Linked DNA regions of Homo sapiens: region 2 is linked to region 1. Evidence: fine-mapped expression QTL. Tissue or cell type: whole blood. Region 1 holds a variant in brackets; the other region holds the start of a gene. All regions are shown on one strand. Distances are between the middles of the regions.

Evidence for each region. PIP is the estimated chance that this variant, and not a neighbour inherited with it, causes the effect.
Region 2: it holds the start of CDH1, and the variant in region 1 is fine-mapped to the expression of CDH1 in whole blood (INTERVAL, PIP above 0.99).

The regions. Positions count from the first base shown.
Region 1 is chr16:68,773,533-68,781,398 of GRCh38, reverse strand. All of the region lies in intron 2 of CDH1 (cadherin 1), which reads right to left. Among named protein-coding and RNA genes, the nearest start is that of CDH1, 40 kb to the right of the region's middle. RefSeq lists cis regulatory regions at 302, 986, 7,019 and enhancers at 230-374, 914-1,058, 1,060-1,661, 1,662-2,265, 6,947-7,091. The variant A/G (reference allele first, on the strand shown) is at 3,995.
Region 2 is chr16:68,733,307-68,741,172 of GRCh38, reverse strand. It overlaps CDH1 (cadherin 1), which reads right to left and starts at 3,881. Exons shown (of 16, transcript NM_004360.5): 1 at 3,710-3,881; 2 at 2,762-2,876. The coding sequence starts at 3,757. It also overlaps a transcript of CDH3 not described here. RefSeq lists a silencer at 3,766-3,835, a cis regulatory region at 4,788 and an enhancer at 4,716-4,860.

The sequences.
Region 1 (7,866 bases):
CATTGCACACCAGCCTGGATGACAGAGTGAGACCCTAACTCTAAAAAGGAAGGAAAAAGTAAAAGACATACTGAGGGGTTAAAATGAGTGCTGCGGGTGTGTGGAGGAGGGTGGAGAATGAAGCGGAGGCAACTGAGGCCACAATGCCTAATTGTTTCCAATACCCCCACCCTCAACTCAAACCCTCTGACCTGCAGATAAATAATGTCAGGCCTCCTGTGTGAGTGCTTTGAGTGCTGCGAATTACAAAATACAAAGCACAGCTGAGGAGTGGGGACAGGGTGGTCAAAAGGTGAGAGGAGAACATGGAGACAGAACGGCTTGTCAGCCGACACTTTTTTCCCCACAGACTCAATTCATCTCTGGACTCCTGGACCATTGCAGTAGCTCCTTAATCTTCCCAATTCTGGCCCAGGTTGCTACGGCGTCTTCTCTACACAGTAGCCGCATTGAGCTTGCTACAACCTCGGTCAGGCCATGACAAGCCTCTGCTCTATGCAGAGCCCTCCAGAGACTCACTTTTCCCAGAATAAAAGCCCAGCTCTCTACAGTGAGGCCTCAGCTACTTCTGACTTTGTCACCAACTACCCTCATGTCACTTGCTCTGCTCAGCCAACACCCTGGAGGTAACTGTGGGCATGAAATCACGAGAATGAGGTGCAGTACTAGCCAGCTTTGAAGACGCATGAAGTTATGGGAGCGCCACTCCTGATTCATCAGCACTGTTCTCCTGGGGTTGACTCCAAGGCCCTTTAGCCAAAAACATACAATAAGGTAGTAAACGCTGTAGAGAAAACAATAGAACAGGTGCTGGGCATGGTGGCCGAAGCCCGTAATCCCAAGCACTTTGGGAGGTCGAGATGGGTAGATCACTTGAAATCAGCCTGGCCAACATGGCGAAACCCTATCTCTACTAAAAATACAAAAATTAGCCAGGTGTGGTGGTGCACACCTGTAATCCCAGCTACTTGGGAGGCTGAGGCAGGAGAGAATCACTTGAACCCAGGAGGTACAGGTTGCAGTGAGCCAAAATCATGCCACTGCACTCCAACCTGGGTGACAAAGGGAGACTCTGTCTCAAAATAAATAAACAAAAAATAATAAAATAAAATAAACAGGGAGGAAGGATAAGGAGGGAGTGCTGGAGGCAGTGGTGTGCCATGTCAAAGGCAATGAAGGTGACTTAGAGCAAAGGCAGTTTTAGCTGAGACCTAAGACTTGCTGGAAGGGAGGGAAGGAGGGAGGAAGGGAGCCACACGGTCCCCTTTGGAAGGACATTTCAGGCAGAGGGAAAAGCAAACACAACTTGGTTGGAAGCCAATCCAGGGTGGTGGCTGAGTAGAGCGAGTGACACAAGGGTAGTCAGTGACAAAGTCAGACGTAGCTGGAGCCTCATTGTAGAGAGCCGGGCTTTTATTCTGGGAGAAGTAAGGAGTGTCTTGGAGTTATCTGCAGATGAGAGGGTTTCAGCTGGGGATGGGGGGATTGGAAACAGCCAGACACTGTGGCCTCAGTTGCCTCCCTTTCATTCTCCAGCCTCCCTCCAACACCCCCAGCACTCATCTGTTGCCAGGCTGGAGTGCAGTGGTGTGATCTTGGCTCACTGTCACCTCCACCTCCCAGGTTCACGCAATTCTTCTCAGCCTCCCGAGTAGCTGGGACTACAGGCATGTGCCACCATGCCCAATTAATTTTTGTATTTTTAGTAGAGACGAGGTTTCATCATGTTGGCCAGGATGGTCTCGATCTCTTGACTTTGTGATCCTCCTGCCTGCTCGGCCTCCCAAAGTGCTGGGATTACAGGTGTGAGCCATCGTGCCCGGCCAACCCCTCAGTTACTGACCCTATCAGAAGCACCATGCAGAATTGCAGTTAATCTTCACAACAGCCTAGAAGGTAGGTACCGTGTTACTCCCATTTCACAGGTGAATAAAGCAATACTCACAGTGGTAAGGGATTTGCCCAAGGCCACGTAGCTATAACAGCACACAGCAGAGCTGGGAATTGAACTCAGGCCTGCCGGACCCCAAAGCCCATCACCTTAACTTCCACCTAGCCCTGCCTCCCTGGAGGATGTGCCTCTTTGCCCCTCTGTGCAGGGAGTAAAGAGGCAGAGAGAGGCAAAGTCACCAAAGGAGGGTGGCAGCTTACAGATGGGAGCAGTTTTCCCAGGACAAGCCACTGGGGCATCTCAGTCAAGCCCGCACTGCAGGTGGAAGGCTAAAAGTGCTGATGAGGCAGGCGGTGTTGATGTCTGACCAGGCCCATTTAGAGCAGGCCTTCAGGGATTTCAGCAGCACAGGAACTGGCTCTGAGCACTGTAAATAAGTTGACTCAACACCTTGGCAGGTGATAGGGCTTTTTGGCCCTGACAAAACCTGAAAGGCCACCTGGCTGTTCCCAAAGGCCTTAATTTGCTTAAATAATGGCAAAACCTCTGGTGTGAATTCCCAGAGAACTTCCTGCCTTCTGACATGAGAGGGCACACACCAAGGGAGCCAGGAAGAGAAAAACCTCTCTCCCCCTCAATCAATTCCATAGGAAAACTGCTTATTAACTAAATCAGGAGGCAGAGGCTTGCCGTTCATACCAGCGTTAAATACTCTTTCCCTTCTCATTGTGACTGCACCGTTTCTGCTGACAGGGCAGGAGTTCAGACCAGTCAGGCTACTGCTTTCTCTTTTAAACACCCTTTTAAGCCATTAGCTTAGGCTCATCTGGAAAACCGGCCTGCCTGCCTGCCTTCTGATTACACACACAATATATTCAGCTTATCTCAGGTGTCCATTTCCTTCAGCAGGTAGGGAGCTGTGGTTTCCCAGAAGCATTTCTGTTTCTGGGAAGGCTGCAAACCAAGGCTCTACACATAGGGCAGGACCACGTGGAATCACTGGGGCTCACAATTGTTTACTAAAAGCTCAGGACTGGAGCTCTACTTACTAATCTGAACAAGAGCTGTTTCACTAATGATGATTTGTTCCCTGTTGGCATTTCAAAAAATATTGAGATATCATTAACACAACACAAAATTCACCAATTTAAAGTGTACAATTGGTCGGGCACGGTGGCTCACACCTGTAATCCCAGCATTTTGGGAGGCCAAGGCAGGCGGATCACAAGGTCAGGAATTCGAGACCAGCCTGGCCAATATGGTGAAACCCCGTCTGTACTAAAAATACAAAAATTAGCTGGACATGGTGGCAGGTGCCTGTAGCCCCAACTACTTGGGAAGCTAAGGCAGGAGAATTGCTTGAACCCGGGAGGTGGAGGTTGCAGGGGACTGAGATTGCACCACTGCACTCCAGCCTGGGCAACAGAGCGAGATTCCGTCTCAAAAATAAATAAATAAATAAAGTGTCCAATTTCTGGCCAGGCATGGTGGCTCATGCCTGTAATCCTAGCACTTTGGAAGGCCAAGGCAGGTGGATCACCTGAGGTCAGGAGTTTGAGACCAGTCTGGCCAACATGGCAAAACCCCATCTCTACTAAAAATACAAAAGTTAGCTGGGCGTGGTGGTGTGCGCCTGTAGTCCCTGCTACTTGGGAGGCTGAGGCAGGAGAATCGCTTGAACCTGGGAGGCAAAGGTTGCAGTGAGCTGAAATTGTGCCACTGCACTCCAGCCTGGGCAACAGAGTGAGACCCCATCTCAAAAATAATGATAAAAATAAAAAATTTAAAAATACAAAAATTAGCCAGGTGTGGTGGTGCATGCCTATAGTCAAGCCACTCAGGAGGCTGAGATGGGAGGATGGCTTGAGCCTGGGAGGTCGAGGCTGCAATAAGCCGTGGTTGCACCACCACTGCACTCCAGCTTGGGTGACAGAATCAGACCCCCTTCTCAAAAAAAAAAAAAAAAAAAAAAAGGAAACATTACCTTTTCTAGAACACTACCACCCCACAAACACTGCTTTTGAAGGCAGTCTTGGCTAAAGCCTTTGGTGGCAGAGATAATATTAGCAGCTAATGCTCTAGAGCACACTGCATGCCAGGCTT[A/G]TATTAGTCATTTATTTTCATAATAATAGTATGAATTAGGTACTATTATTGTCTCCATTTGACAAATGAGAAAACTGAGGCATATGAGGGTTGAGTAACTTGCCCAAGGTCACATAACTTACAAGTTACTGGTGTGAACCTGGAATTCGAGCAAGCACAGGCCGTCTGGCCCCAGAGCCCGTGGCTCTTGACCACTATGCTTTCATGAAGGGTTTTCTGCCTATGAGGCTTGAGAAAGACTGAAGGAAGCACCATGCCAACACACCTGAACACACACTAAATGAACCTGGGGGGACTGTGGCTTTCTCTCTCTGAACCAGTTCATGATATGAGGCTTAGAGGCACCAATGTTGCATTTGGAACAGCAACAAACACAAGCTTGGGACTGCACGGTGGTTACAAGTAACAAGTCTGAAGTCAGCCACACCAAGATTGAGGTTTCAGCTCCACCACTCAGACATACTTGAGGTTAAGTCACTTACCCTCTCTAAGCCTTAGTTTCCTCTCTATAAGATGGGCCGAATGGCAATCTCTAAATAACAGGACTGTCGTGAGAACTACATGAGAAAGTATATAATGTAAAGTGACCAGCCTAATCTGACAAGCCTGTTGGATTTCATGCATGGGCTGTTTTGCTGAAAACTGTGCATAACTCAAAACATGCTCAGCTTTCCTTTAAAAGTAGATGTGATGCACTCCCATTCTTTAAAAGCTGCAATATAAAATGAAACTTTATGCCAGGTGCAGGAACTCATGCCTATAATCCCAGCACTTTGAAAAAGCCAAGGTAGGAGGATAGCTTGAGCCCAGGAACTCGAGACTAGCCTGGGCAATATAGTGAGACCCCTGTCTCTACAAAACATACTATTTAAAAAAAATTTTTAATGAGATTTTACTAAGTAAAATATTATAGTGCAGTTTCAAGTCTGAATGATTCAAATCCGCTGAATGTCAGGTACTGTCCATAGCTAATATTGGACTCCTGCTGTGCACCAGGCATGCCACTCAGCACTTTAATCCACTATTCATGTTCAGGAAACGTTGGTCATTATTAAAAATAGTAAAAGTATATGAACTATGCTTGTTACCTGCTACTACATTAAAAGAAATCTAAAATAGGCCTGGTGCGGTGGCTCACACCTGTAATCCCAACACTTTGGGAGGCCAAGGTGGGTGGATCACTTGAAGTCAGGAGTTTGAGACCAGCCTGGTCAAGATGGTAAAACCCCATCTCTACTAAAAATACAAAACTTAGTCAGGCATGGTGGTGCGTGCCTACAGTCCCAGCTAGCTACTTGGGAGGCTGAGGCACAAGAGTAGCCTGAACCTGGGGGTGGGAGGTAGAGGTTGCAGTAAGCCAAGATTGCACCACTGCACTCCAGTCTGGGTGATAAACTGAGACTCTGTCTCACCAAAAGAAAAAAAGAAATCTAAAATAGCCATATTTGAGGACTTTTGACAATCTTCCCTCCTAACTTTCCTCCTTTTGGGTGGATGGGGGAGACCTGTGGAAGACAGGGGAAATGTAAAGGGGGACATTTTGCTAAACATCTGAGTGACAGCTTTGGAAAACGACCACACCTAAGTTTACACTTTCTTGACCTTGATGTCTAATTTCAGGGTCTATCAAATCATAACCTTTTGTTTCTTTGGAGAGCAACATGCTGATACCATCAGCTTTATCTTAGACGCTTCAGATGTAGAAATGCCAGCTATGCTTTATTATAGGGGAAGGAAATGTCTTTTTAAATTACAAACTTGAGTCCCATGTGTGGCTAGTGTGTGCATGCATATAGCTTACATGAAACCTACATGCTTTTAAACACAAAAACAGAAATGTGTAACTGCTCCTAGAATCCAACCGAATCCAAAGTGGGAGAACAAAAAGGGGGCCTTAGGCAAACCAAAGGCAAGAACACCACCTTCTCTTCTCATGTTCCCTTCTGGGTACACAAGGATCTCGGGAGGTGATGTTTGAAATGACTTGCATGTGAGAGTTTGTAATAAACACAAGACATTCTTGGCATGGTTGGGAATATTTGCCATCAGAGTTGGATGTTAGATGACATTATACGTTTTCTTAGTTGTGATAATGGCATTGTGGTTCAGGAGATGCAGACTAAAGTATTTAGGGGTGAAACATGCCTGCAGCGTACTTTCAAATGGCTCATAAAGTGCATGCTCGGACGCACACACTTAAGAGGCACACACAGAGAAGGCAAATATGACAATGTTAATTGTAAAATGAGGGTGTTCTTTTTTCTTTTTTTTTTTTTTTTGAGACAGGGCCTTGCCCTATCACCCAGGCTGGAGTGCAATGGTGCAATCATAGCTCATTGCACCCTGGACCTCCCAGGCTCAAGCATTCCTCCCACCTCAGCCTTCTGAGTAGCTGGGACCACAGGTGCGCACCACCATGCTTGGCTTCATTGTACTATTTCTCAACTTTTATGTATTTAAGTTTCCATAATTAGAAGTTTTGGGGATGGGGAGGGGCTTCTATAATGAGAACTAACCAAACTAACCACGTGGATTTATTTCAGATAAAATCAGGACTGAGATTCACCCAGTATGGACTGACAACAACCACACCAATGGTTGAAATATTGAAAAGTCCCATCAGTTGGTGAGTAGCCTTTGCTCTGAGCCTCCTGGTGTCCTCCCCAGTGCCCACCCTCCAGCTGCTGCCCAGGGCCCCAGCACTGCTTGAGCACTAAACACCAGGCATCCGCTTTCATTGCAAAGGGTCCAGGCTGTACTGGTCATCAAACTTTACTTATTTTATTTATGACAGGGTATTGCTCTGTCACCCAGGATGGAGTGCACCACGTTGAATGCAAAGGGTCCAGGCTGTACTGGTCATCATCAAACTTATTTATTTATTTGAGACAGGGTCTTGCTGTGTCGCCCAGGCTGGAATGCAGTGGTGCAATCTTGGCTCACTGCAAGCTCTGCCTCCCGGGTTCAAGCAATTATCCTATCTTGGCCTCCTGAGCAGCTGGGATTAAAGGCACCCACCGCCACGCCCAGCTAATTTTTGTATTATTAGTAGAGATGGGGTTTCACCATGTGGGCCAGGCTCAAACTCCTGACCTCAAGTAATCTGCCCGACTCGGCCTCCCAAAGTGCTAGGATTACAGGCATGAGCGACCGCACCCAGCCATCAACAAACATTTTAAAACTGTGCTTCTGGCCATTCACGGTGGCTCATGCCTGTAATTCCAGCACTTTAGGAGGCTGAAGCAGGAGGATTGCTTGAGGCCAGGAATCAAGACCAGCCTGGGCAACATAGCAAGACCCTGTCTCTACAAAAAATTTAAAATTAGCCAGATGTGGTGGCGTGTGCCTGTACTGCCAGCTACTTGGGAGGCTGAGGTGGGAAGATCGCTTGAGGCTGGGAAGTTGAGCTGCAGTGAGCTATGACTGCACCACTGCACTCTAGCCTAGGTGACAGAACGTGGCCCTGTCTTAAAAATAAATAAATAAAACATTATTCTTGCATATTCTTAACTACTGGCCATACTCCACCAATCTCTCGTCTTGGCCATCTTTGTCCACATAACTTGTTTCTCATGGATATGAACAGGAAGAGCCCTGTGGCACACAGGTTAAGTGCTCAAGCTGAGTTTAAATCTTGGCTGTGCCACCTCCCATCTGTGGGACCCTGGACTAGTCACTTTACCTCTCAGAGCCTCAGTTTACTTTACTGCAAATTGGAGATAATACAGTCAGTTCTTCAATAATCCTTGTTTTGAAAATGCAAATGTGTTTCAATGTGAATGATGTATTAGGAAATAACTTGAGCAGGCTGGGTGCACTGGCTCACGCCTGTAATCCCAGCACTTTGGGAGGCCAGGGCGGGCAGATCACCT
Region 2 (7,866 bases), 40 kb after region 1:
AAGGGAACTGAAACCAACCACACCAGAGGCCTGCGGATTCTGTGTGAAGGCTGCCTCTTCCCACTAAATCACCAGTCCCAGGGTCCCCCGCCACCTCCCCCGGGTCTGACCCATCTCCATCATCACCACCCCCTCTCGGAGGTCCCACCCTGTCAACACCTCCATTCTCAGCTTACTTCACATTGGACACTAATTCCCCAAACACCTTTTTTCTTTGTTTTTGTTTTTTCAGGTTATTGAGGTGAAAAACAAGGAGAAAAAGGAAGAGAAAAGACCAACTGCGGATGCTTCAGATTACAGAATTGCTTTATGCCTCAGTTTCCTCACTTGCAAAGTAGGAAGAATAACAGTGCCCACCCTCCTAACGTTCTAGTGAAGACTAAATGAGGTAAAATATGTGAAGCACTTGCCCCAGAGTCTGAGGCAAAAGTGAATACGTGTCACTATTAATTATTAACATATTAGTGTTAATATGTAATAATATTATTGGTCAAACACAGGAGCTTAGAAGGGAGAAATAAAAACCAGACCAACCCACCCTTGGTGCTACCAAATATCTTGGTGCAGGAAAACAAAGTCACCAGCCTTAGCACTGGGACACCCCAGACGCATGCTCAGATACAAGCTTGTTTCTAGCCCCTGCCTTGCTCTCCAAGACTGGATCAAGTTTGCCTTCCCCGAGAAGCCACTCCTCAATGCCCACTGACATCAAAATATCCAATCCCCAGCACTCTGGGAGGCCAAGGCGGGTGAATCACTTGAGCCCAGGAGTTAGAGATAACTTCTGATCCAATAGAAAGCTCTAGAGCACACAGAGCAAATATACTTCATCAGTCGAGCTGTAGTTTCTCTGTAAAAAACTTCGAATGACTTCCAAAGTTCAAAAAAAAAATGTAAAGACAACAGCGTGATTGCTAAAGATTCATGTGGTCAAAGACTGGAAGAATGACACAGTGGAGGTGTTCCCTCAGGGGAATTGTGGGTGATTTCTCTTAAAAAAAAAATGCCTCTTATTGTGATACCCAATCAAGTAAAATCATGAGAGAGGAGAAAGTGGTTTGATATAAAGGAAGCACTTGGGATTCAGTGAAACCAGAAGAGAAACTAGCCCCTTCCCTTGCTCCCTGGACAACAGTCAAGTGGAACAAAGCAAACTCTAGATTGTCACAACGATAAGGCCTAGAAGTACATTGGGTGTATGCATTTTCATCCTGAGTCAGAACTACCATGCTTTTTTTAAAAAAAGATCATTATTCCTGGCCAGGCGTGCTGGCTCATGCCTGTAATCCCAGCACTTTGGGAGATTGAGGCAGGTGGGTCACCTGAGGTCAGGAGATCCAGACCAGCCTGGCCAACATGGTGAAACCCCTTCTCTGCTAAAACTACAAAAAATTAGCTGGGCATGGTGGTGGCACCTGTAATCCCAGCTACTCAGGAGGCTGAGGCAGGAGAATCACTTGAACCTGGGAGCCAGAGGTGGCAGTGAGCCGAGATCACGCCATTACACTCCAGCCTGGGCAACAAGAGTAAAACTCCATCTCAAAAAAAAAAAAAAAAAAAAAAATCATTATTCCTTGGGGGAAACAGTACCTGTATCAAGATGTTTTGGTCCAGGCACAGTCTCTCAGGCCTGCAATCCCAGCACTTTGAGAGGCTGAGACAGAAGGATCCTTTGAGCCCAAGAGTTCAACACCAGCATGGGCAACATGGAGAGACTCCTGTCTCTAAAAAAAAATTTATTTTTTATTTATTTTTTGAGACGGAGTCTTGCTCTGTCACCCAGGTTGGAGTGCGGTGGCACTATCTCAGCTCACTGCAACCTCTGCCTCCTGGGTTTAAGCAATTCTCCTGCCTCAGCCTCCTGAGTAGCTAGGATTACAGGCACACGCCACCATGCCCGGCTAATTTTTATATTTTTATTTAGTAGAGATGGGGTTTCACCATGTTGGCCAGGCTGGTCTCGAACTCCTGACCTTGTGATCCGCCCACCTCGGCCTCCCAAAGTGCTGGGATTACAGGCGTTAGCCACTGCGCCCAGCCTAAAAAAAAGTTAAAATTATCCAGGTGTGGTGGCACATGCCCATGATAACCAGCTACTAGGGAGGCTGAGATGGGAAGGATCACTTGAGCCCAGAGGATGGAGGCTGCAGTAAGCTATGATTGTGCCACTGCACTCCAGCTTGGGCAACAGAGCAAGACCCTGTCTTTAAAAAAAAAAAAAAAAAAAAAAAAAAAAGCTTTTATATCTGTAAACAAAAGCCACAGCCCAGTAACCAAGAGAGGGCTGCTCTTCAGTCATCCCAGAGATGGTGCTTAATGGGGCCTGGGAGTCAGATCCCAGTTCAGATATCTGCTCTGCTGACCCTGAGCAAGTGGACGTCACTCTCTTAGCCTCGGTTTGCTCAACTGTAAAACGGGAATACTCCTGCCAGGCCTTCCCACCCACCAGGTTTTTGCAGTCTGAAATGAGAGACTGTCTCTACAGTGCTGAGGGCAATAAGAGAAATACGAAGGCTTCTAGTAAGTGCCCTCAACCTCCTCTTCTTTATAACATAGTCAACAACCAGGCAGGGTTACCCCCTCCACCACAGTGTTCAGTCGTAAACGTTTGGATCCCCAAATCTGCGTAAATTCCAAGGGGTGTCGTTTGAGCCAAGGAGGGAGCTTGCCCATTGCAACCCAGGGGTGTGGGAGTGCAATTTCTCGGCCCCTTTCCAACCCCTCCCTACTCCGCCCAGGGACACCGGCAGCGCGCCCTCACCTCTGCCCAGGACGCGGCCTCTCTCCAGGTGGCGCCGGGGCACCGTGAACGTGTAGCTCTCGGCGTCAAAGCCAGGGTGGCAGGGCTCCGGCTCCTGGCAGAGCCAAGAGGAGACCTGGGGTGGGGGAAAGGTAGATGGAACCGGGTGACTCGGAGGGTTCCCTCCTGCTCACCGAAACCAACAGCGCCGCCCCTCCCTCGCTCCCGGCGTCGGGATTGGGGGAGGACCCCAGCCCGCAGCCCCGGGACGGGCGGGCAGCGACGTCACCCTCCCCCACCCCGAAACCTACGGCCGCCGAGCCCCCAGGAACTCCCGGGAGGGGGCCGCCGAGTCACCCCCTCAAGACCTAGCCCACCGTTCCCTTTCAGTCTCCTTTCTCATTTTATTGGAGATGTCTTTATTCTCCAGTACCCCACTTTCCTTAGACCGGGAATGCACCACTCCTCAGAGCGAGGGGCGCTCCCACCTCCTCCGACCTCACTTTCTTATCCCCGGGACCCTCACTCCTATTTACGACCTTTCTTGGCATGGCAGGTGCCTTTATTTCTACGGATGCCCCTCTCCTTCCCTCGAAGATCGTCCCCACGACTCCTGGCTCCCCCTCGACTTGCACCAGGGCACCCCTTCTCCACACCCCACCCCCTACACCCCGCTTCACGCCCCCACCGCCCGCGCGAGCCCACCCCGCGGACTCCGCGGCCAGACGCCCCCGCCTCGGTCTGCGCTGGAGGGGGCAGGAAAGCCGCGCTCGCCCCTCACCACCCACCCCCCACTCCCATCACTGGGGGGTCCGGAGCGCGCGAGGCTTCCAGGCCGCTCCGCTCCTCAGGACCCGAACTTTCTTGGAAGAAGGGAAGCGGTGACGACGGGAGAGGAAGGGGCGCAGGGCTGGGGCGCGGAGCTTGCGGCCCGAATGCGTCCCTCGCAAGTCAGGGGATCCGGGGTACCTGCAGCAGCAGCAGCAGCGCCGAGAGGCTGCGGCTCCAAGGGCCCATGGCTGGCCGGGGACGCCGAGCGAGGGCAGGCGCCGGGTGCGGTCGGGTCGGGCCGGGCTGGAGCGGGCTGGAGTCTGAACTGACTTCCGCAAGCTCACAGGTGCTTTGCAGTTCCGACGCCACTGAGAGGGGGTGCGTGGCTGCAGCCAGGTGAGCCCCGGAGGCACCGCCCCCCGTACCGCTGATTGGCTGAGGGTTCACCTGCCGGCCACAGCCAATCAGCAGCGCGGACCCCTCCCCAGGGCGGAGCTGACGGCCCGCCCACCCGGCCTCGCATAGACGCGGTGACCCTCTAGCCTGGAGTTGCTAGGGTCTAGGTGGGTTATGGGACCTGCACGGTTCTGATTCCACTGGGTTCGAATCCCAGCCCCGCCGGTGGCTCACTAAGACCTGGGATCAGAAAGGGCTTTTACACTTGGCTGAGTTCTTTTGTTTTTTGGGATTTTTTGTTTGTTCGTTTTGGAGATGGGGTCTCACTCTTTCACCCAAGCTGGAGTGCAGTGGTGCGATCACAGCTCACTGCAGCCTCGAACTCCTGGGCTCAAGCGGTCCTCTGGCCCCAGCCTCTCTAGTAGCTGGGAGTACAGGTGCACACCACCACGCCAGGCTAATTTTTTTTTCTTTTGCCTTTTTGTAGAGAGACAAGTCGGGGCGGACAGGGGCAGTGGGGGCGCTGTGTCTCCCTGTATTGCCCAGCCTGGTCTCGAACTCCTGGGCTGAAGCGATCCTCCTGCCTTGGCCTCCCAAAGTGCTAGGATTTCAGGTGTGAGCCATGAGCCACTGAGCTAGCAGCCTAATTTTTTGTTTGTTTGTTTTGTTTGTATTTTTTGAGACGGAGTCTCGCTCTGTCTTGCCCAGGCTGGAGTGCAGTGGCACGATCTCGGCTCACTGCAACCTCCGCCTGCCGGGTTCAAGAGACTCTCCTGTCTCAGCCTATTGAGTAGCTGGGACTACAGGCGTGTGCCACCACACCGGCTAATTTTGTATTTTTAGTACAGACGGGGTTTCACCATGTTGGCCAGGCTGGTCTGGAACTCCTGACCTCAGGTGATCCACCCTCTTCAGCCTCCTGAAGTGTTGGATTACAGGCGTGAGCCACTGCACTCTGCCTCGAGCGGCCTAATTTTTTAAAAAATTTTTCTAGAGAGGGGATCTCACTATGTTGCCGAGGCTGATCTCAAATTTCTGAACTCAGGCGATCCTCCTGCCTCAGCCCCTTTACTGAGTTCTCATTTTTTAATCTAGTCTTTTTTAACTGTAGAGCTTCATGGGTTAGTGAGTCAGCAAATTGATTCCCTAGGTCAGGACCACCTCCCAAAGCCTCAGTTTCTCCACCCTCCTAATGGGAATAATGATCAGAAATGTCTCCCTATGCTGTTGTGGGACTCCCATACAATTAAAATGACAAATGTTTCTTGAGCCATAAATGCTCTGTACAGAAGTGAGGGGTAAAAATAGTAACAATAGGGCCAGGCATGGTGGCTCACGCCTGTAATCCCAGCACTTTGGGAGGCCGAGGCGGGCAGATCACGAGGTCAGGAGATTGAGACCATCCTGGCTAACGCAGTGAAACCCCGTCTCTACTAAAAATACAAAAAATTAGCCAGGCGTGGTGGTGGGCGCCTGTAGTCCCAGCTACTCGGGAGGCTGAGGCAGGAGAATGGCATGAACCTGGGAGGTGGAGCTTGCAGTGAGCCGAGATCGCGCCACTGTACTCCAGCCTGGGCGACAGAGCAAGACTCTGTCTCAAAAAAAAAAAAAAAAAAAAAATAGTAACAATAGGTGCTGGACATTGAAGATTACTGTGCCAGTCTCTGTGCTAAGCATTTGACACTGACCAGCTCTTTTTTTTTTGAGACGGAGTCCTGCTCTGTCGCCCAGGCTGGAGTGCAATGGTGTGTTCTTGGCTCACTGCAACCTTCGCCTCTTGGGTTCAAGCGGTTCTCCTCTATCAGCCTCCTGAGTAGCTGGGATTACAGGCATGCGCCACCACGACTGGCTAATTTTTGTATTTTTAGTAGAGACAGGGTTTCATCATGTTGGCCAGGCTGGTCTTGAACTCCTGTCCTCAGATGATCCACCTGCCTCAGCCTCCCAAAGTGCTGGGATTACAGGCATGAGCCACCGTGCCCAGCCACTGACCAGCTCATTTAAGCTCATTTCAAAACAACCCAAGAGCTGTATTATTATTCCCATATGATAGATGGGCAACTGAAGCTTAGAGAGATTGAGGCCAATGAGAGGTGGCGCAGGACTGGAACCAACCTCTCTGATTCCAGGGCCTTTCTTCTAACAATCAGCTTCATCTCATGTGGTCCCAGTCTTCCAGCTGGAGCTGCAGTTTTCAGTCTGTTTTTTGATGTTGACCTGGAAGAGACCTTTAGAGTTCACCCAAACCTATGATTTGCAAATAACTTGTTCAATGTCACATAGGCAGGTCAATGTCAAAGCCAAAGACCAAAACCCAGGATCTTCTGACCCCCAGAGTGGGGCTTTTAATGCCACAGCCACACCATGGCCACCATCACCTTCTCCAGAGAATTCTGTCCCCAGTGAAATAATTTTAGGATCAAAAATAGAATAGATAGGGGCCAAAGGTCTCAGGTCCTGGGCCAGTGGCCCTCCAGCACCCGCCGTCCTCCATCAAAAGACAAAAACAGAATAGACAGGCAAATGTTAGGTTAGACAACTTCCCTGTCTGACTCCCTGTGGCCAGCCACGTCTGGGTGGCTTGTCTACCCCGACAAGGGCACCTCCTTTCCCTTTATCCTTCAAGCATGGTTAGAACTACACAGCATTAAGTGGAGTCAGCCACTCACTAGCCCTGTGACCTTGGGGAAGTCAGTGTTCTCCTTTGTATAAGTGAATTGGCATGAGCTAATACAAAAACAATCGCTAAGCAGAGTTCTTGGCTCATCATAGCAACTGCTCAATAAATATTTGGAGTAGGGGTTACTCTTTCAAAAGGCCCAGCCCCTATTTCGCTTCCTCCTGGGGAAAGCCATGTTTGGAATATTTCACCCAGAGCTAAAGGTGCCTCTGAGTCCATCAAGTAATTTCTCAAATGCAGACGATTTCTGGGCAGCCCAGCACCGCCCCCCCCAACAACCTGTCCCCTCAATTTTAATGAGTTTCCAATCAGGTCTTTTGGATGTCGTATTTTGGCTCCCTCTGCTCTTAACCCACCAGGAGGCTCAGAGGGAGAAGGCTCCGGTATTTCCTTTCCCACTAGGATCGTGCCTTGAACAAGATAATGGAAATACAGAAAGAGGCGTTTCCCCCATGGGGCTGTACTGTCTGCTTATTTTTTTCCTCTCAGTTATGTAAAAATACATATTTTATACCATCGCTGGGCCCTGGGAGCCTTTAGGGCTTTACTTTCTTCTACCCAGCAAGCCTTGGCCTCGTAACTCTGCAGCGACTCTCATCGACTCTTCCATTACACTCTGATAATTCAATAAAAAGGATTTTAGAAAACAATTAGGGGCAGCAAAGTCAGGTCAGGCCTGATGCATTCTTCAGACTTCTCGGCAAGTCCTTCTCCAAGCTCCAAAGACAGTAGATCAGGTGTCCAGGGTGAGGCGGGAACACAGAGGGGCTCCTTGTGGAAGACAGGTGCTGTGTGACTTTCGCAACACACTGAATTGCTTCTCTGTTTCCTATTTATTTATTTAGTGACAAGGTCTTGCTCTGTTGCCCCGGCTGGAGTGCAATGGCGCGATCTCGGCTCACTGCACTCTCTGCCTCCCAGGTTCAAGAGATTCTTGTGCCTCAGCCTCCTGAGTAGCTGTGATTACAGACACACGTCACCATGTCTGGCTAATTTTTGTATTTTAGTAGAGACGGGATTTCGCCATGTTGGCCAGGCTGGTCTCAAACTCCTGACCTCAAGTGATCCACCTACCTCAGCCTCCCAAAGTGCTGGGATTACAGGTGTGAGCCACTGTGCCTGCCCTCTGTTTTCTCTTGTATCAAACAGGGATACCTAAGCAGGCCTGGTGGCTCACAACTGTAATCGCAGCACTTTGGGAGGCTAGTTGGGAGGTGAGAAGATTACTTGAGCCCAGGAGTTTGAGACCAGTCTGGGCAACATGGTGAAACCCCATCTC